Homo sapiens: one gene and its partners. The protein of the gene in region 1 purifies or fractionates together with the protein of each later gene. This does not show direct contact. Each region holds a gene or a part of one and is shown in the gene's direction. Other genes may lie near its edges. The genes, in order: DPPA4, ADD2, L3MBTL3, ADD1, APOD, SNX9 and SDR9C7.

The links.
Region 2: the proteins of DPPA4 (region 1) and ADD2 purify together in Homo sapiens (affinity purification with mass spectrometry; 3 studies listed by BioGRID and IntAct, with this or other methods). This does not show direct contact.
Region 3: the proteins of DPPA4 (region 1) and L3MBTL3 purify together in Homo sapiens (affinity purification with mass spectrometry; 3 studies listed by BioGRID and IntAct, with this or other methods). This does not show direct contact.
Region 4: the proteins of DPPA4 (region 1) and ADD1 purify together in Homo sapiens (affinity purification with mass spectrometry; 3 studies listed by BioGRID and IntAct, with this or other methods). This does not show direct contact.
Region 5: the proteins of DPPA4 (region 1) and APOD purify together in Homo sapiens (affinity purification with mass spectrometry; 3 studies listed by BioGRID and IntAct, with this or other methods). This does not show direct contact.
Region 6: the proteins of DPPA4 (region 1) and SNX9 purify together in Homo sapiens (affinity purification with mass spectrometry; 3 studies listed by BioGRID and IntAct, with this or other methods). This does not show direct contact.
Region 7: the proteins of DPPA4 (region 1) and SDR9C7 purify together in Homo sapiens (affinity purification with mass spectrometry; 3 studies listed by BioGRID and IntAct, with this or other methods). This does not show direct contact.

The regions. Positions count from the first base shown.
Region 1 is NC_000003.12:109,334,747-109,339,034, reverse strand, and holds the start of DPPA4 (developmental pluripotency-associated protein 4), read left to right. Parts: upstream 1-1,488; 5' UTR 1,489-1,517; coding exon 1,518-1,571; intron 1,572-2,327; exon of another isoform or gene 2,328-2,714; intron 2,715-4,288. UniProt on the Homo sapiens protein: May be involved in the maintenance of active epigenetic status of target genes. May inhibit differentiation of embryonic cells into a primitive ectoderm lineage.
Region 2 is NC_000002.12:70,677,701-70,681,200, reverse strand, and holds part of ADD2 (beta-adducin), read left to right. Parts: intron 1-498; exon of another isoform or gene 499-1,728; intron 1,729-2,239; coding exon 2,240-2,497; intron 2,498-3,018; exon of another isoform or gene 3,019-3,184; intron 3,185-3,323; coding exon 3,324-3,443; intron 3,444-3,500. UniProt on the Homo sapiens protein: Membrane-cytoskeleton-associated protein that promotes the assembly of the spectrin-actin network. Binds to the erythrocyte membrane receptor SLC2A1/GLUT1 and may therefore provide a link between the spectrin cytoskeleton to the plasma membrane.
Region 3 is NC_000006.12:130,049,581-130,053,080, forward strand, and holds part of L3MBTL3 (lethal(3)malignant brain tumor-like protein 3), read left to right. Parts: intron 1-70; coding exon of another isoform or gene 71-175; coding exon 176-250; intron 251-1,668; coding exon 1,669-1,828; intron 1,829-3,278; coding exon 3,279-3,411; intron 3,412-3,500. UniProt on the Homo sapiens protein: Is a negative regulator of Notch target genes expression, required for RBPJ-mediated transcriptional repression. It recruits KDM1A to Notch-responsive elements and promotes KDM1A-mediated H3K4me demethylation.
Region 4 is NC_000004.12:2,906,344-2,909,843, forward strand, and holds part of ADD1 (alpha-adducin), read left to right. Parts: intron 1-1,399; coding exon 1,400-1,501; intron 1,502-2,171; coding exon 2,172-2,261; intron 2,262-2,995; coding exon 2,996-3,088; intron 3,089-3,500. UniProt on the Homo sapiens protein: Membrane-cytoskeleton-associated protein that promotes the assembly of the spectrin-actin network. Binds to calmodulin.
Region 5 is NC_000003.12:195,568,205-195,571,072, reverse strand, and holds the end of APOD (apolipoprotein D precursor), read left to right. Parts: intron 1-1,937; coding exon 1,938-2,173; 3' UTR 2,174-2,368; downstream 2,369-2,868. UniProt on the Homo sapiens protein: APOD occurs in the macromolecular complex with lecithin-cholesterol acyltransferase. It is probably involved in the transport and binding of bilin. Appears to be able to transport a variety of ligands in a number of different contexts.
Region 6 is NC_000006.12:157,938,246-157,941,745, forward strand, and holds part of SNX9 (sorting nexin-9), read left to right. Parts: intron 1-387; coding exon 388-502; intron 503-2,637; coding exon 2,638-2,729; intron 2,730-3,500. UniProt on the Homo sapiens protein: Involved in endocytosis and intracellular vesicle trafficking, both during interphase and at the end of mitosis. Required for efficient progress through mitosis and cytokinesis. Required for normal formation of the cleavage furrow at the end of mitosis.
Region 7 is NC_000012.12:56,931,609-56,935,642, reverse strand, and holds the start of SDR9C7 (short-chain dehydrogenase/reductase family 9C member 7), read left to right. Parts: upstream 1-1,234; 5' UTR 1,235-1,381; coding exon 1,382-1,682; intron 1,683-4,034. UniProt on the Homo sapiens protein: Plays a crucial role in the formation of the epidermal permeability barrier.

The DNA.
Region 1 (4,288 bases):
TTTAGTAGAGAAGGGGTTCTGCCATTGTTGGCCAGGCTGGTCTCAAAACTCCTGAACTCAAGTGACCTGCCCACCTCAGCCCCCCAAAGTGCTGAGATTACAGGCGTGAGCCACCATGCCCAGCCCAGAACTCCAGTTATTCTGAATGTTACGTTCAATTACACTGACAAAAGAAAGATGATTCAGTTATACACTTTATACACAAACCTTAATTAGAAAGTCCTACTGGTGGTTACCAAAGGCTGTGGTAAAGAATTGTTAAATCAAAGCCCTAATATCTCCCAGATGACCTCAACTCACCTGGTTTCCTCTTTGCCGCCTTGGGGGTTGCCCAGTCCACAACCTGCACTTCCTTCTCTATTCCTGGGCTCCGTTTACTTACTTTTTCTGTCCGTGGATTTCTAGCCTGTGAGCAGATTACTAACACCATTTGGATAAAGACAGTCTCTTATTTATCATTTTAGGACAAGCAATGAGATGTAGGAAAAAAAAACAACAAAGTAAACCAAAGAACAAAAGAGACTTTGGACCCTGACAAGGGAGGGTTTCAGTCGCACAGCCACTGCTTCCTTCACTTCACATCTCTTGACAATCTGACAGGGAGCACTGATCTGAGGAAAGATTTTTCAAATTATTTTAAGGAGAAAAACTTGAACTTCTTTGGGAGTCAGTAGGTTAGGGGTTCACTTACTGTGCTATTGAAAAAGTTACCAATAAAAATTTATACCAACTTTAGTCATATATAAAATGGGGAACAATAATGACTGAATTTAAAACTCACAATTTGAGATATAAAAAAATACTCGGGCGGGGAGTGGTGGCTCACGCCTGTAATCCCAACACTTTGGGAGGACAAGGCTGGAGAATTACTTGAGGGCAGGAGTTCGAGACCAGCCAGGTCAAAATAGCCAGACCCCCCCACTTGCCCTCTACAAAATAAATAACAAATACTCTATAGACTTTAAAAGCTACTATTATTAGTTCGTTGGCAGATGAAAAGATGCTCGGTATTAGTACAGAGAAACCTGGAGTTTTAGTTGGTTGAGTAACTTACTTAGGAAATGGAATGTATTTGGTACGAGAAAATAGCTTTCTTCAAGCCGCCAGTCTGGTCTCTGAAGTCTACTGTTGCCACAAGTTCCATTATTAAATCCCTTCACACATCCTGCTCAAGTCTCTGGCCACTGTTTTTTTGTTTTTTGTTTTTTGTTTTTTTTCCCCGTAGAATCGTTCTGAAGGAGTGCTCAATCTCCCAATGTCTCCGGAACCATACTTTGGATAATTACATTTAAAGTGAACAGAAAAGGGCCAGGAATAGTATTAGTAATTCAACCCAGACAAAAGTCACCCCATGAATAAGAAAGAATGCAATTTTAGCATTTACAAATTGTGGGGGAGGGAACAGAAGGGGAGAAGAAAAGAAGAGGTGAGGTGGAGAGAAAAAGGGTCTTCGGGCGGCAGGAAGTGGGAGGAGACTTTGCAAATAGCAATCTTGGGGCAGGGGCCATTTTGGAAGCATGTTGCGAGGCTCCGCTTCTTCTACAAGTATGGAGAAGGCAAAAGGCAAGGAGGTCAGTACAGTTTTAGTGGATTTGTTTTCTGTCTGTCTTTGTGTTTCTGTCTTCCCTGGGCACTCCTGATTTTTCCTTTAAGGAGAAAAGAATGTGCCTTCGAATTTTCTCCTCTTGACTTTTTTTTTTTTTATTTTAAGAGTAAGGCCCAAGAATATGATTGCAGCCTGGTATATTGGAGTGAGCAGACAAGTAAGAAATGAGGTTTTCTAGGTTTAGTTGAGGAGGTTGAGTGTGTCAAAAGATGGGGAAAAAAAAAAAAGAGGCCGGGCGCGGTGGCTCACGCCTGTAATCCCAGCACTTTGGGCAGCCGAGGCGGGCGGATCACCTGAGGTCGGGAGTTCGAGACCAGCCTGACCAAAATGGAGAAACCCCGTCTCTACTAAAAGTACAAAATTAGCCAGGTGTGGTGGCGCACACCTGTAATCCCAGCTACTCGGGAGGCTGAGGCAGGAGAATCGCTTGAACCCGGGAGTCGGGGGTTGCGGTGAGCCGAGATCGCCCCATTGCACCCCCAGCTTGGGCAACCAGAGCGAAACTCCACCTCAAAAGAAAAAGTTAAAAAATTAGGTTTTCAGGTTTGTGTTTTGGAACAGGGTTTCACTTTTGTCTCCCTGGCTGGAGTGCAGTGGCACCATCACTATTCACTGTAACCGCCCAGGCTCAAACGATCCTCCCACCTCGGCTTACCAAAGTGCTACTGGGACTGCAGGCGCCCGCCGCTGCTCCCGGCCCGGGTTTTCTGTTTTGAAGAGGTGCTTAGTCCTGTCAGAAAGAACTAACTGAATATGGGGGCTAGAGGGAAATGGTAACAGGAGAAAAGGGTGTTAAAGGAAAGATTTTAGGAAGAGGTAATTGAGCTGAGTTTGGAAAAGAATGAAACCCCTTAATTTCCTTTAGACGGACACAGATCCTAAACCGAGGGTGCTGAGAATGAATTCGTCCCCTTTTCCCAGCGTCCTTAGGACCTAGGAGTAATCAGAAGCCAGACATTGGGAACAATGCAGACAGAAACTGAAGGAAGAGAGGATTTAAGACGTTGCACAGGCACTGAACGGCCATATCCGAGCGCTCTCAGGTCCTCTTGACTTGAACTGGGTCATTTTTAACTGTCTCGGTTTTAAGTCTTTTGTGAGGTCCAAAGTGAGTACTTTTTGTAAGGTTTATGCAAATATAAATTTCAAATCAAAATGTAGAACTGCTATAGAGATGTAAAAATGCCATACAAATGTTAATTTGTCCAGTAATCCACCCTGAAAGTGAAGAAAAGGATTTAGATTTAGGAGAAATTTTATTATATTAATTTTTTTTTTTTAATGAGTTTGACTCTGTCGCCCAGAGTGGTGTGCAGTAGCCGATCTCGGCTCACTGCAGCCTCTGCTTCCCGGGTTCAAGCGATTCTCCTGACTCAGCCTCTCGATTAGCTGGGATTGCAGGCACGCACCACCACGCCCAGGTAGTTTTTGTATTTTTGGTAGTGACTGAGTTTCGATATGTTAGCCAGGCTGGTCTCGAACTCCTGACCTCAATCGGTCAGCCCACCTCGGCCTCCCAAAGTGCCGGGATTACAGGCGTGAGCCACGGAGCCTAGCCTTTATATTTAAATTTTAATTTATATCTAATGTACCCCTAATCTGTGTCTTTATGTTACCTCTGATTCTCAGCTTCTGTGTCTGAGAAGTAATTGTTGCCAGATTGCTATGAGAATTAAATGAATGAAAAAAGGAAGGCCAAGGCCAGGCACAGTGGCACACGCCTGTAATCCCAGCACTTTGGGAGGCTGAGGTGGGCGGATCACTTGAGGCCAGGAGTTTGAGACCAGCCTGGCCAACATGGTGAAACCCCCATCTCTACTAAAAATAGAAAAATTCAGCCGGGTGTGGTGGCAGGCGCCTGTAATTCCAGCTAGTGGGGAGGCTGAGGCAGAGAATTGCTTAAACCGGGGAGATGGAAGTTGCAGTGAGCCGAGATTGGACCACTGCACTACAGCCGGGGTGACAGAGCGAGACTCCTCTCAGAGAAAAAGAAAATAGGGAACCCTTGGGCGCAGTGGCTCGCGCCTTTAATCCCAACTCTTTGGGGAGCCAAGGCGGGAAGATTGCTTGAGGCTAGAAGATTGAGATCAGTGGGGGGAGACATAGGGAGACCTCACCTCTACAAAAAATTATCCTGTAGTCCCACCTGCTCAGGAGGCTGAGGCAAAAGATCACTTGAACCCGGGAGGTAGAGCTTGGAGTGAGCTATGGTCCTGTCACTGCACTCCAGCCTGTGTGACAGGGCAAGACCTTTTCTTTAATAAATAAATATTTTTTAAAAAAATGAAAGTGAGGAGCATATCAAAGCCAATGCCTAGTATGAGACAGAGGCTCAATATATGTTACTGTCTCTGGATTAAACAACTTTTCCCCACTCCCACTTTGCTTCCTTTAATTCAATGAACCAATATTTATTGAGTGCCTATGATGAAAAAGAAATCACACAAACCAATGTAATTGCAATTAACAAGTGGTAGAAATGAGGTAGTATTTAGTAGATTGGTCTGGAAGGACCAGGTTAAATAGCACTTGAGGTGAGACTTTTAAAAGAAGAGTAAGATTTTTAAGGTGTAAGATTTTAAAGTGTAAATAGAAGTAGGGTGGAGGTTGGGGCTGAGGAATGTAACAACTTTGGAAAGGAAAGGAATTATGTGGCTGGAGCTTGGTCAGGGAGAGCAGTGT
Region 2 (3,500 bases), on another chromosome or scaffold:
GAAAGCCTGAAAAGATACCTCCAAAGGCCAATTTTAGGTTCTATAATAGTGATATTATTTACAGGAGTAATTGGGGAAGTTGCAAATCGTGTGACCTCTGGAATAATAGCTGGTAATTATTTAACTATGCCTACATTTTAGTAAAATTCAGGCCCCTTTCCTCTTCCTAACTTGGTGGTCTTTCATCAGTTTTACAAGGATAGTTTAGTTTTTGGGAAGGGCTATCGTCATTTACACTATAAACTAAATTTCTCCTGAAGTTAGTTTGGCTCACATCCAGGAATGAGCAAAGCCAGCCAGCTTGTGAGGCTAGAAGCAAGATAGAGTACTGTCATAATTTTGCAAAGGTGATTTCAGTTTAAGGTGGACAATTATGCAAATATATACAAAAATCAGTAGTTTTTGTATCTTAACTACTTTGAAAATATAATAATGGGAGAAAATAATCCTATTTGCAAATGGATCACAATCATAAAACACTAAAAAGCATAATCCGTGTTTTTAAAACCATAAAACTTTATTAATAGACATCAGAGAAAACCTGAAGTCAGTGAAGAGCTATAATTTATTCTTGGTTAGAAAGCTTCAATAGGGTAAAGAGGTTACTTCCCCAAAATTAATCAATAAAGTCAATGGATTTCTTTCAAAAATGGGGGAAGGTATGAGGACTTGACAAAATATCCTTCCATGTGAAATTCAGAATGGCTAGGGCAATGTTATAAAAAGAAAAGTAATTAGGAATACTAATTCCACCTCATGACAAAGTGTGATAAAACTTTGGCAACTAAATGGCGTGGCACTAGCAGAATGGATGTGCAAAACAATGCAACAGCTTAGAGAATCCAGAAATAGATCCAAAATATATGAGAATTTAACACAGGAAAAGCAGGCACTTTATAAATCAGTGAGGGAAAGATAGACTACTTGCCATCTGGGAAGGAAAGCTAAGGCAGATGCTACTTCATTTATTTCAACAAGATAAATTCCTGGTTTGTCAAAATGGTAAACATAAAAAGTGAACTCATAGGGGTATTAAAAAACATAGACTTATGTTTTTGATGCCCTTGTGTTAGGGAAGACTTATCAAGCACGGCACAAAAGGCTGCAATCTTGACAAATATTAATAGATATGATATTAAACAATTCAAAACTTGCATTTCTATAAGCCACTCCCCCACCATAAACAAGGTAAAAGACAAAGTATGGAGGGAAATATTTTCACCATCTATGATAGTGAAAAAATTAATATTCTTAATTTACAAAGAGCTTACAAATCAATGTGAAAAACAGAAACATCAATAGAAAAATGGGCTGAGAACATAAACAATTTACAAAGGAAAATAGTTAAGTAGCCATTATATGTAATTGGAAATATCCATTTTACTAGTATCAAACATATATGGACACACATGTATATGCATAGAGATATGACTGGAAAGGTTTTTAGTGATTGTCTCTGGGGTGAGAGTTTGCATAAAATTCCGTTTTTTCCTTATTTTTTTTAATTTTGCTTAATTTTTCTACATGGATCTGTATTTCCTTTATAATCAGAAAAATAATGTCATTTTAATTTAAAAATAAAAGAAGACAAAGAGAGCTGAATATTGCTCCAACAGCTGCCAAGATTCCAGAATGTTTGTTCTCTCCAAGAAGCAGTCAGCTCCAGCTTTGAGGGGATGTGGCCTTGCTTAGGAGACAGGAATGTTCTTGAGTCTGATTTCAGGGTTCCTAGAAGGAAATTGTTAAGAAGTTTCACAGTCAAGGAAGGGAGGGGTGACTGTTAAATCAGCTGGGAAGCTTTTAAAGATCCTGTAGCCCAGGCCACACTGTGATCTGATTAAATGGGCAACTCTGCATCAGGGCCCAGGCATCAGTGTTTGTGTGAAGCTCCCCCCGTGATTCTAGTGTACAGCCAGGGCTGGGAGCCACTGGACCAGAGGAAATCTGTGGCTCCATTTGGATGAGGAGCTCTGTCTATCTGGTCCACAAAGGTCTAGGGATTTTCTCAGCCCTGATCAGAGGACTTGTTGGGGTAGAGAAAGAGAGGGGATGGGGGACCAGGAGGAGGGAACAGTTCTGAAATATACCAGAAGAGTGGAAAGCCTAGATTGTTTAATGGAGATTTGGGTTTACATGAAGAGTCCTTTAAGCAGACGGAAGGAAAGGTGTGTGTGCATGTATGTGCAGGTACAGGCCTTTTTTCTCACCCCATAAGTGGTTCTATTTTTGTCCTTTATAGGGCTACAGAACAGGTTACACGTATCGCCACCCCTTTGTTCAAGAGAAAACCAAACACAAAAGTGAGGTGGAGATTCCAGCCACGGTCACAGCCTTCGTGTTTGAGGAGGACGGTGCCCCGGTGCCCGCCCTGCGACAGCATGCCCAGAAGCAGCAGAAGGAGAAGACCCGCTGGCTCAATACGCCCAACACCTACCTGCGGGTCAATGTGGCCGATGAGGTCCAGAGGAGCATGGGCAGCCCCCGACCCAAGACCACGGTAAGGGGGAGCCCAGGACAGACCCGGGCAGAGAGGGGCAGGCTGCATTAGCAGGGTGAAGCATTTTTAAAACGGGAACAGAACAAACCTCTCCTGCCCCAGGTTAGTAGCATCCTCTTTGGGCTTCCTATTAGGCCTCTGGGAGCAGCTGCTCAGGCCCACTGAGCCCCTGACCACTTCTTCCTTGCACCTCTGCCTGAGTTTTTGGGTCTAAGGAGCAGATTTCTCCAGAGGGCAGTTGGACCAGGCACATGACCCAGAACCAGTTGGTTTGTGCTTCTTTCTCCCACATCCACAGGGGGCTCTTGGGAAATTCAAGGGAGGAGCATTTAACATTGGGACTTCAGATCTGATGCAAGCCCAGGAGGTGGGCTGTACAGCCACTTCTATGAAGTTATATTTTCTCTCCCTGTCCCCACCCACAGGCTCTCAATTTTTTATTAACATAAAAGTAGCCAACAGCCAAATAGAATAGCTCTTCATAAAACAATATGAAGCTCTCCAAACTCAAATCAAGTTACCTAATACTGAAGCCCAAGTGGTTGCCTGTGTATCAAAGCTGGTTCCCAAGGTTCTGACCCCAACTCTTGGATGTTCTTTATAGCCGACCTTTGGCCTGAGGGCCTTCATTGGTAACTGGGTCATCTGTTGCCATTCTCTGCTCCTGGAGACAGACATCAAAGAGGCCTAAGAAGAGAGAGTGTCTATGAGTAGGCTTGCTGACCTTCCATGCAGGATGTTGGGCCCAGATCTCGTGGGTGGACCACTGGGGAGGACTCATGGGCCTGTTCCCTCACCTCAGCCCCATGACCTTGTGTTTGTGCAGTGGATGAAGGCTGACGAGGTGGAGAAATCCAGCAGTGGCATGCCGATTCGCATCGAAAACCCAAACCAATTTGTGCCTCTCTATACTGACCCCCAGGAAGTACTGGAGATGAGGAACAAGGTAAGTGGGGTCTGTTTATCCCACTCTTTCTTCTCCCACACTGGGGGGTCTCAGGTC
Region 3 (3,500 bases), on another chromosome or scaffold:
CTTCTTTGTCCTAATGCCAGATCTGTAGTAGCACAAGGTTAGTTGGAAATTAAGTAAATCCATGTTGTAGCCTACACAGGTGATTTAGCCAAAAGCCTGCCACTTTTTTTCTCATCTACTCCGATGGTTGTAACTAACACCTATATGCTGATGACTCCTAAATCTACATCTCCAGCCCCGACCTCTCCCCCGAGCTCCAGGCCCGTATTTCCACCTGCCTACTGGACATCTCCACCTGGATGTCCCACAGGTACCTCAAACTCCACATGTCTGAAATGCAATTCATTTTCTATTTCTTTCTCCCCTCCCCACAAACCTGCTCTTTCTTCCCTAACCCATATTTCAGTTGACAATAGCACCATCCACCCAGTGGACAAGCAAGAAACACAGGAGTCATCCTGAATTTGTTCTTCCCATCCCCATATCCTGTTACTTATACCTCTTGATTTTTATTTCCTAATATGTCTCAGATCTGGCCTTTTCTATCTATCATCTTTGCCATGGCCTTAATGTAGGCTCTTCTCAACTCTCATCTGAACTATTGCAGATGTCACTCTACTTCTAATTTTACCCCCTTCCAATTGGTCCTGCACCTTGAAGCCAGAGGAACTTAACGTAGATTGCTTATCTGACACTTCACTGATTTCTCATTGCCTTTTTAGCAGAACATACAAAGATCTGGGTGCCTGCACCTACCTGCTCGCCTTGTCTCCTCAGTCTCTGTTTCCTTCTTTGTATGTTGTGTTCTGGCAGTGCCAGCAGCACAGAATTACGTGTAATTTTCCCAACACATCATGTGGTTTCATGCTTTCTTGCCTTTACTCATACTGCTTTTTCTGGCTCAAATGCCATTTCTCTCTTTGTCCAGTTGGTAAATTCCTCTTTGGCCTTCAAAACCCTGTTGAGGCTTTCTATCAGAAAATCCTTCTCTGACCTTACCCCAGGCTGAATGAATCACTTCTTCTGTACTACTTCTGGACCTTGTTTATGCCTCTAGTATTGCATGTATCACATTTTATTATAAATACTGGTTTTCTTGCCTCTCTTTTCTTCTAGACTGTGAGCTCTCTTGGGCAAGGTCTCTACTGTCATTATTAATGTCTAGAATAAATTGGTGCCTAATAACTGCTGGCTGAATGAATGATTAGCCTAACAATTCAGGCAAAAGGAAATGCGAGTTTCTACACAATTTGGATAGCTATGAGTCAGGAAATGTACTACATTGAAAGCGTAATAGAAGAGATGTTGATTTAGCCAATTAAGTAAAACAAAATCATTCATCAAAAGATTATAAATGTGAAATAAAAGAAGATCCTCTGAAATTTTCTGAAAGATACAAATATAGAAGAAGTTTCTATAGATCGATATATGCGTCTTCTGAATTTAGTGACTAGTGAAATTTTCTTCATTTTACTTTGAACTCTGTAGAAAAAGCCTTGGGCAAGCTTTTATCCTTTCTGCAGAATATTTTTTCATTATTTGAATGACTTGAGTGATTTTTACAGAGCCCATACCCCCCGAAAACACTATCATTTGATCATTCATTCATTCAGCAAACACTATTCTTTATTGTGTTGCTAACAAAATTATTAGAAGAAAAAGTTTGATTGTATTTTAGAATGTCTTCTGTCATGGTTGTAATTTGCATTTCTTCTTTTCATCTTCTAGTCTTTTCAGAGAAGACTGGGATGCCTTTCAGGTTGAAGGATCCAGTGAAAGTAGAAGGGCTTCAGTTCTGTGAGAACTGTTGTCAGTATGGCAACGTAGATGAGTGTCTTTCTGGAGGAAACTATTGCAGCCAGAATTGTGCTCGGCACATCAAAGATAAGTAGGTTTTTGCCCCATTCCATCTATAAATTGAGTTTTAGATTCCAAAGTCATGGTGCCTGAGAATATAGAAGTTTTATGCTCTCGGACATTGATCACCTATTGATACCTTTTTCCCAGAGACTTTTCCTTTAGGGCCACATGGGCCCTAACCCCTATATGGGACCTGGTGACGTCTGTCATGCCTGGTCTGAGTTGTATTACTAATATTCTGCCTGCAAAACAGCCTCTGCCTCTGCCTTCAGTCTTCCATTTCCATTCATTTGATTGTCTTCAGCTAAGAGTATTTAGTTTTTTCTGGGCTATATACACATTTCGATGACACTGACATTTATAGAAACATAGTTTTGTTTATATTTTGGGAATTCTTAGGTAACTCGGTTAAAACTCCACCTACGGCATAAAGCTTCCACTGATTCGTAATCAGCTGAATGGAAATGGCCATAGGGAAGAGTGTAGTGAGTTGGGTCACTGATGATCTCAAGGTGTGGACTGAGGATTATGAGACAGAGGCATCAGCTGTAACTGGTAGTGGTGTGTGACCTTCCCATTTGGGGACAGTCTGACAAAGTTCAGCTTATCACCAAGAAGGTGTTTTTCTTGCATATCATTGTATACTACAAAGAAATGACTGGACATTTATATTTTAGTGGCATTTCCCATGTATTTTAATCAGCACAGGCTTGGGAAATGTTTTCTTTTTCTTTTTTTTTTTTTGAGATGAAGTCTTGTTCTGTCGCCAGGCTGGAGTGCAGTGGCGTGATCTTGGCTCACTGCAACCTCCACATTCCCAGGTTCAAGCAATTCACCTGCCTCAGCCTCCCGAGTAGCTGGGACTACAGGCGCACGCCACCACACCCAGCTAGTTTTTTCTATTTTAGTAGAGACGGGGTTTCACCATGTTAGCCAGGATGGTCTCAATATCCTGACCTCATGATCCGCCTGCCTCAGCCTCCCGAAATGCTGGGATTAAAGGTGTGAGCCACTGCGCCCAACTGGAACTGTCTTGTTTTTCTTGGATAACTGATGTTTCACAATGTTACACTTAGCCTTTTTTCAATTGGATTTGTCATTCTTAATAACTGCTAGATCCTTCTTTGACCCTGAAAACAAATATCTCTAAATAATCAATTCTTTTATTAGTATAGATGGTAGATGTGACAGACAAATAACTTGTTAGAACCTATTTCATACATATTGCTGGCCCCCTTTTGAAATTAATATATAAGGTAATTTTCATTTTCTGCCCTGACAGACAGATGTCATATGTAATAGTTGTTTTCAGTGTTCCTGATATATGATATTCTCATGCCTACAGATTTCTCCTGGTAGTTAAAGATTTTTCCTTTGCAGGGTGATTTTTTTTTAATGATTGTTGCATTGATAATCAACAAGTAGATGTTTGATAGGTATTGTCTCTTGTCACTATTTTGGGTTTATAAACACAACAGAGATCAGAAGGAAGAAAGGGACGTAGAAGAAGACAATGAGGAAGAAGATCCTAAGTGTAGTCGGAAGAAAAAACCAAAATTATCTCTGAAAGCTGACACCAAGGAGGATGGAGAAGAGAGAGATGATGAAATGGTGAGTGCCTCTGCCTGACACCAGGAGCACAGGGATGCATCTTTAGTGGGTAGCATCACAGTCACAAGCACTGCTCTGGAGCCCACTGA
Region 4 (3,500 bases), on another chromosome or scaffold:
GTTTATTTTTTACTTGTTTCACTTGTTAAAGGAAGTGGGCGTTATAAAACAAAAAAAAAAAACCCCAAAACACCTTTCTGCGGCTGATGTGAAGCACAGTGCTGAATTGCCATGAGGAAGTTTTCCAAAGCGTTTAGGCAGCAGCGCGAGCTTTATTTACCATTAGCTTGCAAAACAACTAAGTCACTTTAGGCCTAGTAGTCAATGTGTACATCCAAGGGGAGGCCTTGCTCCGCATTTATATTTGTTTCTTACTGTTCTGGAGTGACAGAGTCCATGCAGTGCTCCCAGGTTGGTATCTTTTCATTTATAATGATTGCTGTTACTTTTTCAAATGTGTTCAAGTTTCTGAGGTTGCTGTTTGAAATGCTTTGACTAAAAATTATTTTTAATAAAACGCTGGAGTTGTTTTTATCTGAGAAGATAACCATCAGTGAGTACCCAGAGCTCCATGCCCATTCCACACTCTCCTCGCAGTGGCTCAGCATTTGCTGGTTTTGTTGCTTTTTTTAAAGTCGTATGGTTTATGGCTATCTTATTGCCTCTCGAAAGTATTCTGAAAGGCATAACATTTGCTCTCGAAGATGGGCTTGTTTTAATGTTCAGTGCCTACTCATGCCTTAGAATTTGATTAAAAATCTCAGATTTGATTGGAGATCCAAAAAAAAATTATGGGTGGAAGGCTCAGCATGCTGACGAGATGCACTGATACTAAAACAGCCTTTAAATATTAAGGACTCATGAAGCGCTTCAAGTTTGTTTGGGATATTTTTGTAGCACTCAAAAATATTAAGTTATATAAAATATTCGACATCACCAAACTCTTCTTCCAGGTAGCTACCGTGTAAGTGTCCATACAGTAATGTTCTTGGGTTGAAAGTTACGCAGACAGTGCATTCTGATGCTGTCATTTACTTTAATGCAAAACTTTGGTGATGCCCACTCTTGCCTCACGGTGCAGGCTCCTCCCTAACCCTGGGTAGCAGCATCACATTGCTTTTCATGACCCTGTCATCTCATGCTTCCAGTTGGCTTTGGTGTTGGATGATTTTCAGAGCAGTGAACCAATGGTCTCTGAGGGGCCTCCCCTGCTGGTCCCAGGGTTATGGGGCTCAGCTCTGTCGTCAGCCTACCTTATGACCCAGATTCAGCTGGGCTTTCCAGATGGTGGTTTTCCATCAGTCATGACTTTGACTTCCAGCATTAACTGGTCTTTATGTGGCTGCATCCTGCTCCCATGGCGACTCTGCTGAGTGACCCAGATTAGATGTGGTCATTGGTTCAGTCCTCTCTGTGATGTTCAGTGCATGACCAGATGTGAGATAAACTGAATAGATTGGATGCTATGTCACTTATTGTTGTCATAATTCTGACTTTTCAACTGTTCTTGATATTACAGTGGACTAAAGAGGATGGACATAGAACTTCCACCTCTGCTGTCCCTAACCTGTTTGTTCCATTGAACACTAACCCAAAAGAGGTCCAGGAGATGAGGAACAAGGTGCGTCCTGCGTCGGCACTCAGCGGGGGCTTGGGTGTGGGATTGGAAGGGATGCCAGCTGCTTTGGGGGGAGCGGGTGCTTGCTTCTAGCAGAGGGCATCTGCTGTTGTTGCCACTGTTGCAGTGAAGCCATCTCTTCACACCGCTGCTGTTCTACCACCAGTGTGAAGTATGAGCAGCAGACATTTTTTGGGCCCTATTGATTCTTGAACTGATGTTTGCTCACGATGTTTGCTCACCGGTCAGAATTGGAAGCTGCAAAACCTGTTCTTAGCAAGAGCAGACTGCTGTCCCTTTCAGGGTTCGTTCAAAGACTTGTGAGTGGCATTTGGTGTATCAGAGCAGGAGCCCTGCCAGTGCTCACATCACTAGACGATGGACATGCAGCGAGTGTTTCCCCCAAGTTAATGACAGTGAGAGATAGGTGTCCTGCCCAAGCATCTGGAAGATGTGGGGAGCTGGGAATAGTCTCCATCCCTGCAGACCCACGCCCCACTAAGCAGGCATGGCGGTCACTCAGAACACATGGGGCCATCCTGCCTGCGTGGGGCAGTGGGAGAGCTGAAATGTAGCTTCCATGTGGCTGGGGCCCAAGTGCACAAGCAGCAGGGCTCCCAGGCAGCATGGCTGCTCAGGACTGTTGATGTGTGCCTCTCCTTCCCACCCTCAGATCCGAGAGCAGAATTTACAGGACATTAAGACGGCTGGCCCTCAGTCCCAGGTTTTGTGTGGTGTAGTGATGGACAGGAGCCTCGTCCAGGTGAGAGCCCAGAGTGTCTCTGACTTTAGTGGGTGGTGGCTGTGTGACCGCCTGCTCCAAAGTTATTCTGAAATTGAGAGAGTGACTTTATGAGGTAAGTATTCTAGGCAACCAGTTACCTTTGTTAAAACCTTCATGATGAGAAACGGTTCAGGCACTTTTCGTTGAGTTCTAGAAGGAGCGAGCATGCTGAGGGCTGTGTCCACCCCTCTGGTCATGCCCCTTGTAATGCATGCATATGTGAGGGTGGCACATACACCACCAGCTTTGGGGCTCAGATTCGGCCCGGGTTCAGCAGCGTTCTGTGTAAGGCGCTAGGAGAGGGTGGGTTTAGGGACTCTTGTTCTGGTACATATTGCTGTCTGCAACAAAGTGCTGCTTGGGTTGCAGAGGGGTGGGTGCCTGTAAGTGTGGTGCACATTTACACACATTTCTACAAAATGACTCTACCTTGTGGCACATTGAAGATAATTGTGTAAGTAGTTATCTCTGAAAACTAATATGCCACCTAATGCTTTAACACCTGACTCTGCAGGGGTAGACGATTGTTGGATTTGTCCAGCCGTGGTCCTGGTTTCGTGTTCAGTGTCTGCACGTCCTGCCATCATCACTGCCACACTTACTGTTGACAGCTGTCCCTGCTGCATGCTCTTAGCCAGCTCCATCCTGTGCTCTCAGCTGATATTTCACAGGCTGGGCCTGGTGTGCTCTGGTGACTCAGTTTACTGTTTCAGGATGCACCTCTCTCTGACTGTACGGAAACTATCGAAGGGCTCGAGCTTACAGAGCAGACCTTTAGTCCCGCTAAATCTCTCTCTTTTAGAAAGGTACTCACTGCCCTGTCCTCACTACCTGTCTATGCGCCTTGCTCCCCTCCCCTCCCCCCTCCCCGTCTCCTCTCTTCAGGCATTGTCTTAGTTACTGAAGTAGCTTCAAATGGATCTTTAACCTGTTTGTGAGATTGTACAGAAGGTTCTGTTCTACCTACTTGATTCTTTAATTAAAACATTTGCTATGAGGTGTGATAACAATTTCCAGCATTCGAAGTTGTTACTGAGAAATGGCCAGTCTGAGCAACGTGGTGCATTTCTGCAGTTCCGCACGGGACTTTGGTCAGTGCGTGTTTTGGGTTTCAGAATTTGCCTTTTCCATGACTCTGACTGCAGACAGCCTCTTCTGGGCAGTCTGTTGCTGTTGGCAGCGGCCACTCCCGAGTGCCCTTCCACCCTCGCTGGTTCA
Region 5 (2,868 bases), about 86 Mb from region 1:
TCACATCCCAGTGTGGATACTGACACGTGACCCCGCAATTTACTATAACTAGCTAGCGTTTCAACAGGTGAAACACAAGTAGGTGCACACCGGGTGTGGGCTGCAGAAGACACAACCCAGTCTTGTTTCCCAAAGGAAACTGGGGCCCGAAACATTAGCAGATATTAGCAGAACAACCTGCACGGCGCAGAAACTAGGAAGCAAGAGATGACAAGAGTGACGGCAAGTTTGAATCCTGCTTCTGCCACTTTCCAGTCACATTGTTGGGGATCCTGTGAGATACCTAATGACAGGCATTTGCCTCTGGGTTCTGAGCTAACTGAGGAAGGGACACAGGCAATAGAGAAAGCACCAAATATTAGTTTTATTTCCGACGAAGATACACTAGAGAGTTCAACCCAGAACTGTGAGGCTTTCTAACACGAAGAGTGCTTGAAAGCCCCTTTCCCACCTGCAGGGTAGACACTGAAGTCATCAGCTACAAAAGTTACTCCCTGCACTTCCTACTTCTCATCTCTGCCACTCCTCCACCCCACACCAGTCAAGTGCCTAGAGCGGGGAGGAGAGGAAGTTCTAATTTTATAGACCAAGAAAGGAATGCTGGGAGGAGAAAACAGTTCTTCTCACACTATGAATATGGACAACTAACTTCACATGTACAAGCCAGAAATAACTGCCCAGTGTCGTGAAAATAAACCAGATACACACGCTCTGTAAACTGTAAAGGGCTTTATACACAGTTTCTCTTGTTATTTTTATCAAGAAGGGAGCTAAAGTGCAGGTGGGCTGAGTGACGCAGGCCATCACTGAACTCATTAGAAGTAGAGTTGGGACCTAAACCTAGGTCTCCAAACTCTCAACTGAGTATTTTTCCCATAGGGATCAGGGACGGGGATTGGAGTGAAAGCTAACTATTACATGCATAACAAGGATTAGATGTTTGCGTTAGGCCTTGTAGGATTATGGGAGATTATGGAAAAGGATTTCCAAGTGAAGGGAACTGGAACATAGAAGAAGGCCTGAATACAGGCATATCACGAAGTCAGGAGTTCAAGACCAGCCTGGCCGACATGGTGAAACCCTGTCTCTACTAAAGATACAAAAAATTAGCTGGGCATGGTGGCGTGTGCCTGTAATCCCAGCTACTCAGGATGCTGAGGCAGGAGAATCGCTTGAACCCAGGAGGTGGAGGTTGCAGTGAGCTGAGATCGCGCCATTGCACTCCAGCCTGGGCGACAAGAGTGAAACTCCATCTCAAAAAAAAAAAAAAAAAAAAAAAAAAAAAACGAAGAAGAAGAAGGCCTGAATAAAGAGGCCTAGAGCCTGGGAGTGTACATGAAGAGGGGCATGAGGTTAGGAAGGGCCTTGAATGCCACATTAAAAGGCTTGAAGTTTCTTCCATAAACAATAGGAGACTGTCAAAGTTTTCAAATAAGGAGAGACATGTGAAGTTTTCTGTATTGTATCTGGGTAAATTTATTCTTCGGAACTGGACCACGAGAGGAAGGCAGAATGTGCCAGCCTGGGTGAGTGCAGGTGGGCCATGATGCCGCTGCTGGCAGAGGTGGGAGACAGATTTTTGCAAAATCACTCTGGGCTTAAGAGTTCTCAGTCCACCTGGGAATACACAGAGCAGCTGAAATGTGCAGATGGGTGATGACTATAACGCTGTCTCTCTCTCTCTCTCTGTCTCTCTCTCTGGGTGAGTGAGGCAGGCAGGCAGGCAGGGCACCAACAGTGCTAGAAAGGGTAAGTCAGAAACACTCAGTCTAGGCTTTCGTCCAAACTTCTTTCCAGGGTCTTTCTGTTTCTGGATTGATAAACAAAATCAGAGGTGGGGGGCTTGGTGGGTGGTTGTCTGGGCCAGCCTTCTTGTGTTGTCCTGAGATTTCTCTTGCCCTCTCCCTCCAATAATGCTGCCTCTCTCTGGTTCTCAGTTATGCCATCGGCACCGTACTGGATCCTGGCCACCGACTATGAGAACTATGCCCTCGTGTATTCCTGTACCTGCATCATCCAACTTTTTCACGTGGATTTTGCTTGGATCTTGGCAAGAAACCCTAATCTCCCTCCAGAAACAGTGGACTCTCTAAAAAATATCCTGACTTCTAATAACATTGATGTCAAGAAAATGACGGTCACAGACCAGGTGAACTGCCCCAAGCTCTCGTAACCAGGTTCTACAGGGAGGCTGCACCCACTCCATGTTACTTCTGCTTCGCTTTCCCCTACCCCCCCCCCATAAAGACAAACCAATCAACCACGACAAAGGAAGTTGACCTGAACATGTAACCATGCCCTACCCTGTTACCTTGCTAGCTGCAAAATAAACTTGTTGCTGACCTGCTGTGCTCGCAGTAGATTCCAAGTTGGATTAATTATTGTGGGTTTTTCATTATAAGCTTATGCTTAGAAATCCTTAAACAGGCTGGTTGTGGTGCCTCATGCCTGTAATCCCAGCACTTTGGGAGGCTGAGGCAGGAGGATCACCTGAGGCCGGGAGTTCAAGACCAGTCTGGGCAACATAGCAAGACCTCATCTCTACAAAAATGTTTTTAAAATTAGCTGGGTATGGTGGTGCACACCCGTGCTAGCTACTCAGGAGGTGGTGGCAGGAGGATGACTTGAGCCCAAGAATTCGAGGGTACAGTGAGCTATGATGGCACCACTGCACTCCAGCCTGGGCAACAGAGCAAGACCCTGCCTCTAAAAAGAAAAACAGAAAAAAAAATCCTTAAGCAGTTATGTTGAAAAAAACCAAGCACTGAATTGTCCTCATTTAAAGGTAACAATCCTGTTTCTGGAGTGGGGGAAGCTGATGGCAAAGGCGTATTCTGGGTGACCTGAATCCAGATGCCCCCGTTCTGG
Region 6 (3,500 bases), on another chromosome or scaffold:
GAGAGAGAGTGCCTGTGTGCACATGCTGCCCTGTACCTAGCCACATGACTTCCAAAACCTGCTAATGCCTGATTTCCATTACGTGCTACTCCTCAAATGGCAGCGGCTTCTGAATATTACAGAGATGGTGTGCTGTTTGCTTTTCTCTTTTGTTGTAGCATAAAACTGTTCATTTTAGCTTAGTGACATTTGTCAAGAATAGCAACCTTTTTGCTTCCAAGGGACTTGAAGGAAGTTAAATTTAGATGCTTTCCTCTCTTCTTATTTTGTGGAGGTATTTCCTGTTCAGTAGCAAATCAGTTATAGAATATATTAGCATTGTTATATTTTAAACTAATGACTAATCATTTCAGCTTTATTCATACTGTTGCATTTTATATTTCACAGGGAGCAATAGAAAAAGTGAAAGAAAGTGACAAACTAGTTGCAACAAGTAAAATCACCCTACAAGACAAACAGAACATGGTGAAGAGAGTCAGCATCATGTCTTACGCGTTGCAAGGTAAGATGAAAGGGTCCTTATGAGGTGCTGGTGGAAGTTTTTTTTTCCCCAGCAAAGTTTCCCTTGATAGAGAGAAATCCAGATGTGAGCAGCAGTTAAGTAAGTGAGACCTTTTAAGCCCCTCGTTTGCAGGATCCCGGTGCTGATGAAAATCTGTAATATTTATTTAATTTTTCACCTGTCCACCTTATCTGGCTATAGATGACAGCTTGATTAAAACTGTACATTTTATTATTTCTGAGAGACATTTAAGATTCCTTTTGTAATCTGTGGTATCATAATGCTCTATTAAATGCCAGAGCCCAGCTTTTAGCAGTCTGTAACCTGCGTGCCTTGGGATCATGGAATGTGAAGGGGTTTGGGTGTGTCATTTTAGGCACAATTTTTTTGTGTCAAGAAAAAAAAAAGATGAATTTCTATAGGTTTGAGTGTTTTTGAGCAGATGAGGGCAGCAAGTGGATTTTTCCTGTTGGCGGATGGGTGGATGGCACTTGGATGGGCAGAGAATGGAGAGCGTGTTCTGTTAGGAACAAAAGCCACAAAATTGTGGTGCTAGATTGTGTCATGGGCATGAAAGAGTAAAACATACTTAGAGGTTATTGGGAAATAAATTTTGATTGTGAAGGAACTTGAAAGCTCTAGACTTGATGCAGGCATTAAGAAGCCATTAAAAGGGAGTAAAAAAAAATCAATCCTCAAGGGAGAAGGATTTGCTGGTTATGGAGGGGAGATTGGAAGATGCAGACACTGTCCAAGAGCCCAGCCAGAAGACCATCTCACTGTTGTAGTCTGAGCTTTGAGGGCCTAAAGATGTGGTACTGGGGAGAAGAGAATGAAGCACATTTGCAGGCTTTTCCAAGGAACAGCTTTCAAGACTGGGGCATTCATGGGAGAAAGAGAAGGATGAGGGAGGTGTCCAGAGCCAGGCCACTACGGCAAAAACGAGGAACCCTGATTGAAGTTTCGGGTTTTGAAGGGTTTGAAATGGGGAGTTTGGTTTTGAACTTGTGTTTGAGGTTATCCAAATTGAGAAATACAAAGCTTTGTATAACTTCAAGTAACTGAATGTAAAATGTAGAACAGTTTGCATGTCATGGGAATCTGTGCAGCCGCTGGCTTTCTCAGCCTGGAGGGTTTGGGAGAAGGCGGCATAGGAGGCATCCGAGGGAGGCAATGAGGTCCTCTGATGACGAAGACTCCTCTAGAGTTGGGGGCAGGGGCAGGGGGGACAGAGAAAGAAGGAATCCATGTATTCAGCAAACATGAAGAAAGTTGTCCCTCAGCATCCAGTCCTCCTGCCCTGTGAGAGGTTGAGTTCTGACAGCGTCGCTGGTGCTCAGGGGCAGCAAGGCTTCCCGTACTGAAGAAGGGTCTCCCGCTGTCCCACACGCTGCCCAGCCTTTCACCAGAAACCTGCTGAAGCAATTGCTGTGCAGGAGGGAGCGGGGCAGGGACCCCAGCTGCCTGCTAGGTCCAGTGCAGACACACCAGAGGCTTTGAACTGCAGTCATCTGTAACAAATATGACCAAGTATTTTCTATTTGATCGATTCTGTTAGAGTAATAGGCTGCATTTGGGTGATTTATCTGTATTGGATTTTATAGTTTTGAATATGCAAGACAGTGAAAGTCATTCATTTACTGGAAAGTAATGTTTGTCATTAGCTTGTTTTGTTTTGTTTGTTTTGTTTGAGACAGTCTCGCTCTGTCACCCAGGCTGGAGTACAGTGGTGCAATCCCGGCTCACTGCAACCTCCATCTCCTGAGTTCAAGCAATTCTCCTGCCTCGGCCTCCCAAGTAGCTGGGATTACAGGCACCTGTTGCCATGCCCGGCTAATTTTTGTATTCTTAGTAGAGATGGGGTTTTGCCATGCTGGCCAGGCTGGTCTTGAACTCCTGACCTCAGGTGATCCACCCACCTCACCTCCCAGAGTGCTGGGATTACAGGTGTGAGCCACTGCGCCCAGCTCAACTTGTTTTTCTAACCTCTTAGTAAAGTGATTTACCAAGAACTGACAACAGCAGCCAACCAGATTAGGTCAGGTTGATGATTAATTGTAACTGAGCAGAGAAACCAGGTGTTGTCATTTGAAAACTTGAGGGAAAACTGATTGATGTTCTGATTTGGGTTGTAGCTGAGATGAATCACTTTCACAGTAACCGGATCTATGATTACAACAGTGTCATCCGCCTGTACCTGGAGCAGCAAGTGCAATTTTACGAAACGGTGAGTGGGCGTCCACGTGCCTTTCGCATGTGCTTGAGGAGAGGGTTCCTGGTAAACCACTTTGACCATGTAAAGTTAATCTGTTTGTATTCTTTAATCCTAAGTAATAAACCAAAGGAGCCTAAATTTTGGACAGGATTTTTTTAATCTCCTAATTCCATCTGCCCTTTGCTTTTTGGATAACACTGGGTTAAAAAAGATTTTCTTCTGAAGCAGGGGTCTTGGATGCTAGTTGCAAGGCCCCAAGAAGTTCCTTATTGTGCAGCTCCTTCCCCCCGTCACAGCCTCTCTGTGCCTCTGTGCACCAGGAACGGTGCTGAATGAGATGAGGTCACCCAGCCGTCCCTGGGACTCCGTTGGCAGCTGGAACAGGAGCCTGGCACCACACAGGAAACCAAAGGCAGCCTTTGCTTTTTGTGAATGAGGTTTTCACAGTGCGCCATGGAAATCGCAGAGAGAAAACCAAAAAAGCGAGATGTGGGATGGTTTTATTCACAAAACAATAACGAAAACTTAAATTTTTCTTACCTCTGCTTAGTAATTTTGTTGTTTACCAGAGTCTATAGAAAACAAAAATCTAGTAGCATGTCTCCCTCAGACACCTGCAGGTAAGGTCTGTAATGTAGAATCCAGCCTCCGCTGGCGGCCTTGCTGCCTACCCAGCTCCCCTCTGGCCATGGGATCTAAGCCATGTTCATGGGGAGTGGTGAGCAAGCCCTCTGCTCAGCCATACTGGTGGCATCTGCGAGCTGGACACTGCTGAAAACGCCT
Region 7 (4,034 bases), on another chromosome or scaffold:
CCCCTACTTTGTTAAGGAACGGCCAAACCCTGCGGGGCTTTCCCAGGGTGACACCTGCTTTATGTGATTCCACGCTGGTCAGACTTGGCAAATGGTGGATCACAGAGATACATCCTTTGTCCCTTCACACTAGAGAACTTTGTGGTCCCATTTCTGTGTCAGACTCGCTAAGCCATGAAGGTGTGAGCTAGGACCAGGCTCATCCCAAGGAATGGTGACCCTAGATGTTGATCCAAAGAACCACAGAGGCTCCAGCATCATTCCCTGCATCTTATGCAATTCTGGGTGTGGCCCCTCACTACTCACACCTCTGGTTTCCTTATTTCCTTTCCTTTACCACCTTACCTCTTAGCTTTCTGTAAATTATTTGCTAAATTGCCTAGAATCTCTGTTTCTCCTCCAAGTCCCGACCCTGAGAATTTTCTATGTCTCTGGCCCCAGTTCTCTGCTCCTCCTATATCTCATCCCCTCTTACAGTCAAGGCCTCTGCCCAGACAATTCCCTCAGCTGCCCAGTGAACTCATGATCCCTCCTCATCATCTTGCCCAGGGCTGCTTACTGGTGACCTGAGTATGACCCCCACAGGGTGTCAGGCCTGAGTCCCCCAGGTCTTTCTGCTTTCTGGTGGCTAAGCTTCACATGCCAGCCTCCCCTATAGGAGGGCCCTGCTGCCTCTAGCCTCAGGACAATGGAGGTACATCCACCCTAGGAGAAATCCATTGCTTTTCATCCTCTCTCATGATGGAGACTTACCTAAGAATTCCAGAGAGCTGATGACCTGCGACTTGTTTCTCTTGGGGTTTGGAAGGTACAGAACCAATGTTGTTTGTTTTACATTAATAAATTTGTCTTGAGTATTTTCCCTGAAAATAAACTTATTTACATACCTGCACTCACGACAAATGATTTTGATCCCTGGAGACCAAAATCCCCAGGCTGGGTTGGGGGCAGGGTGGGGACAGGATTTCTAGGGGAGCTGTCTGGGGTGAGTCCTCATCTTTCATTTGCCTGCCTTACACCGCCTGGGTGAGCCACCACTCATCACCAACATTACAAGTGGATTATTTCCAATTCTTGGCAGCTTTACCCATCAGGGCAGGGGGAGAGAGGGAGGCAGCTACCAGGGCTGTCAGAGGTGACAAGGCTTCAGGTTGGACTTGAATTTCTTGCATCTGGGCTAATTGCTGTGGTGATGCATCCACCTATAAAAATTACAGCGTGGCTCACCCAGGGACCTAGATTTGTTGCAAGCTGTGGGAGGAAGGAGAGTTCTTCTTCCAGGTGGTTTCCTGCAGACTGCCTGCTAGGGCTCAGAGGACCAGCTTCTTCCCTGCTGTCTCCTGAGCCCAGTCCCTCTTGGCCATCACATTCCCCTTGCCCTATGGCGGCCCTCACAGACCTCTCATTTATGTATCGCTGGTTCAAGAACTGCAATCTGGTTGGCAACCTCTCAGAGAAGTACGTCTTCATCACAGGCTGTGACTCTGGCTTCGGGAACCTGCTGGCCAAACAGCTGGTTGATCGGGGCATGCAGGTGCTGGCTGCTTGCTTCACTGAGGAGGGATCCCAGAAACTTCAGCGGGATACCTCCTATCGGCTGCAGACCACCCTACTGGATGTCACCAAGAGCGAAAGCATCAAGGCGGCGGCCCAGTGGGTGAGGGACAAAGTGGGCGAACAAGGTGGGGCGAATTACATTCTTTGGCTTTCTTGGTTTCTCCTTCTTCCTCTTCCTCTCTCCCGAAGCATCTGACAGTATCAGAGACCCTGATGTCCAGATTGGGTGGGAGGGGTGATGTAGGGAAAGGCCCCTGCCTCAATCTGATTGGAAGCCACTGCATGGTTTGGCCTGTTCACATGAAGGGGTGATTTCCCAAGGAAGTTTTCTGTCCTGGAAACTCAGAGAAACGGGAAAGAGGTCTCAATAGGAAGCGAGGGGGGAAGATGTGTTCTGTGTGTCCAAACCTCTAAAAATGGACGTGCCTGGCTGGGCGTGGTGGCTCACGCCTATGAGCCCAGCACTTTGGAAGGCCGAAGTGGGAGGATCATGAGGTCAAGAGATCGAGACCATCCCGGCCAACATGGTGAAACCCCATCTCTACTAAAAAGTATAAAAATTACCTGGGTGTGGTGGCACGTGCCTGTAGTCCCAGCTACTCAGGAGGCTGAGGCAGGAGAATCACTTGAACCCGGGAGGCGGAGGTTGCAGTGAGCCAAGATTGCGCCACTGCACTCCAGCCTCGTGACAGAGCAAGAATCCCTCTCAAAAAGAAAAAAAAGAAAAAAAAAGGATGTGCCTCTCTGATGTTTCAGCAGTCCTAACCATCAGCTCCTGGGGAAATACAAACACATTTCTTGTTGGGATCAGGATGGGGGAGGGGGAATGAGACAGGAGGCTGGATCCCATGAGTGGGTGCAGTTTGTCTCCTTGACTATGTCAGGCAGGGGAGAAAGAGATCTGGTCTCTTCTTGACATCATGGTGGGTGTTGATTTGACTTCAGGGCAAGTATGTATGTCACAGTGGCTGCTCCTATTGGGAAAGGAAGCTGTGGACTGGGGCTGGCCCAGGACTGTGTGGGGACCTGCCTCATGCACTTCCAGCACACAGGGTGTGGGCCCAGGAACAGGAGGAACAGGATGGCTGAGTTGCAGAAGCAGCAGACTAGAGGAAGTCCTCCCTCCTAAAGGAACTAGTCTGGAGCCCATGCGCAGGTCAGGGCAACAGAGCCCTGGAGCCAGGGGGATCTAGACAGTAACTCCCTGCTTGATTCTTCTCCTTAGCACTTATCACTAGTCAATGTACAATAGATTTTACTTATTTATTGTCTGTTTCCTCTGCTAGAATAAAGCTTCCTGGGGACAAGGATTTTTGTCCCTTTTATTTACTGTACATCCTTAGTACCTAGAATAATGTCTGGCACCTAGTAAGGTACTGAATAAATAGATTTGAGTGAGCTAATTAATTAATAATTCAGCAAGAGTGAGCCTCTGTCTTCAGCAGGCTGTCTCAGCCAGTTCCCTACATTCAGCCTTGAGCCACTTGCCTTAATACCTCACTTAGCATGTGAGTTTCCTGTTGCTATTGTAACAAATAACACAACTGTGGGGTCTGAAGACAATACAAACATATTATCTTGTAGTTGTGGAGGAGTAATGTCTAAAATAGGCCTCACTGATCTAAAATCAAAGTCAGCAGAGCTGTGTTCCTTCTAGAGGCTGTAGAGGAGAATCCGTCTCATCGACTTTTCCAGCTTCCAGAGGCAGCTGGCATCCCCTGGCTCCTGGCCTGCTACCTCCATCTTCAAGGCCCGCAAGGTTGGGCCCAGTCTTTTTCACACTTTTCTCAAGCTCTCTGATTCTCCGGTTTCTGCCTCTTTCCACTTAGGACTTGTGATTATATTGGGCTCACCAGGTTAATCCAGGATAATTTCCCGTGTTAGCTTCCTCCCTAACTTTAAGGACAATTAATTAGCAACCTCCATTCCACCTGCAACCTTAATTCCCCTTTCCCATGTAATCCAGCAGATTCACAGGTTCCAGAGATAATGAGGATGGGGACATCTTTGGGGGACCATTATTTTGCCTAAGCCACTTGGCAATATCCTGGTCTAAGAAACACTGGGAACTGGGGTGGGTAGGGGGATGGGAGAGGAAGTTCTTTCATGCTTTCTCATTGCTCCTGAATGGAGAAAGGCAGGGAGACTGGGTAGGGGCATGGCTTGGGTGGGGACCCCAGCCCTAGAGGGAGGGGTGGACTAGGATTTATGTTTGTGTTGAGACCTGCCCTCAGGAGACAGTGGGATGCGCCTGCAGAGTATCTTGGGGCTGCTGAGGCTGGGGCTGTGGTGCGAATCACCAGGCAGTAGGACTTGGGGAATCCTTGCATGAAGGAGCTGGAAGGGGTCCTTGAGGAGTGTTTAGAGGGGTTTACAGTAGAACCCCAATATGTAAAACAAATGAAAGGAGAGCTTCTCCTGCATTTTCCTCCCCCTAGAAGGCTTGCAAAATACAGCCTGGAAACAACTGTTTTAGT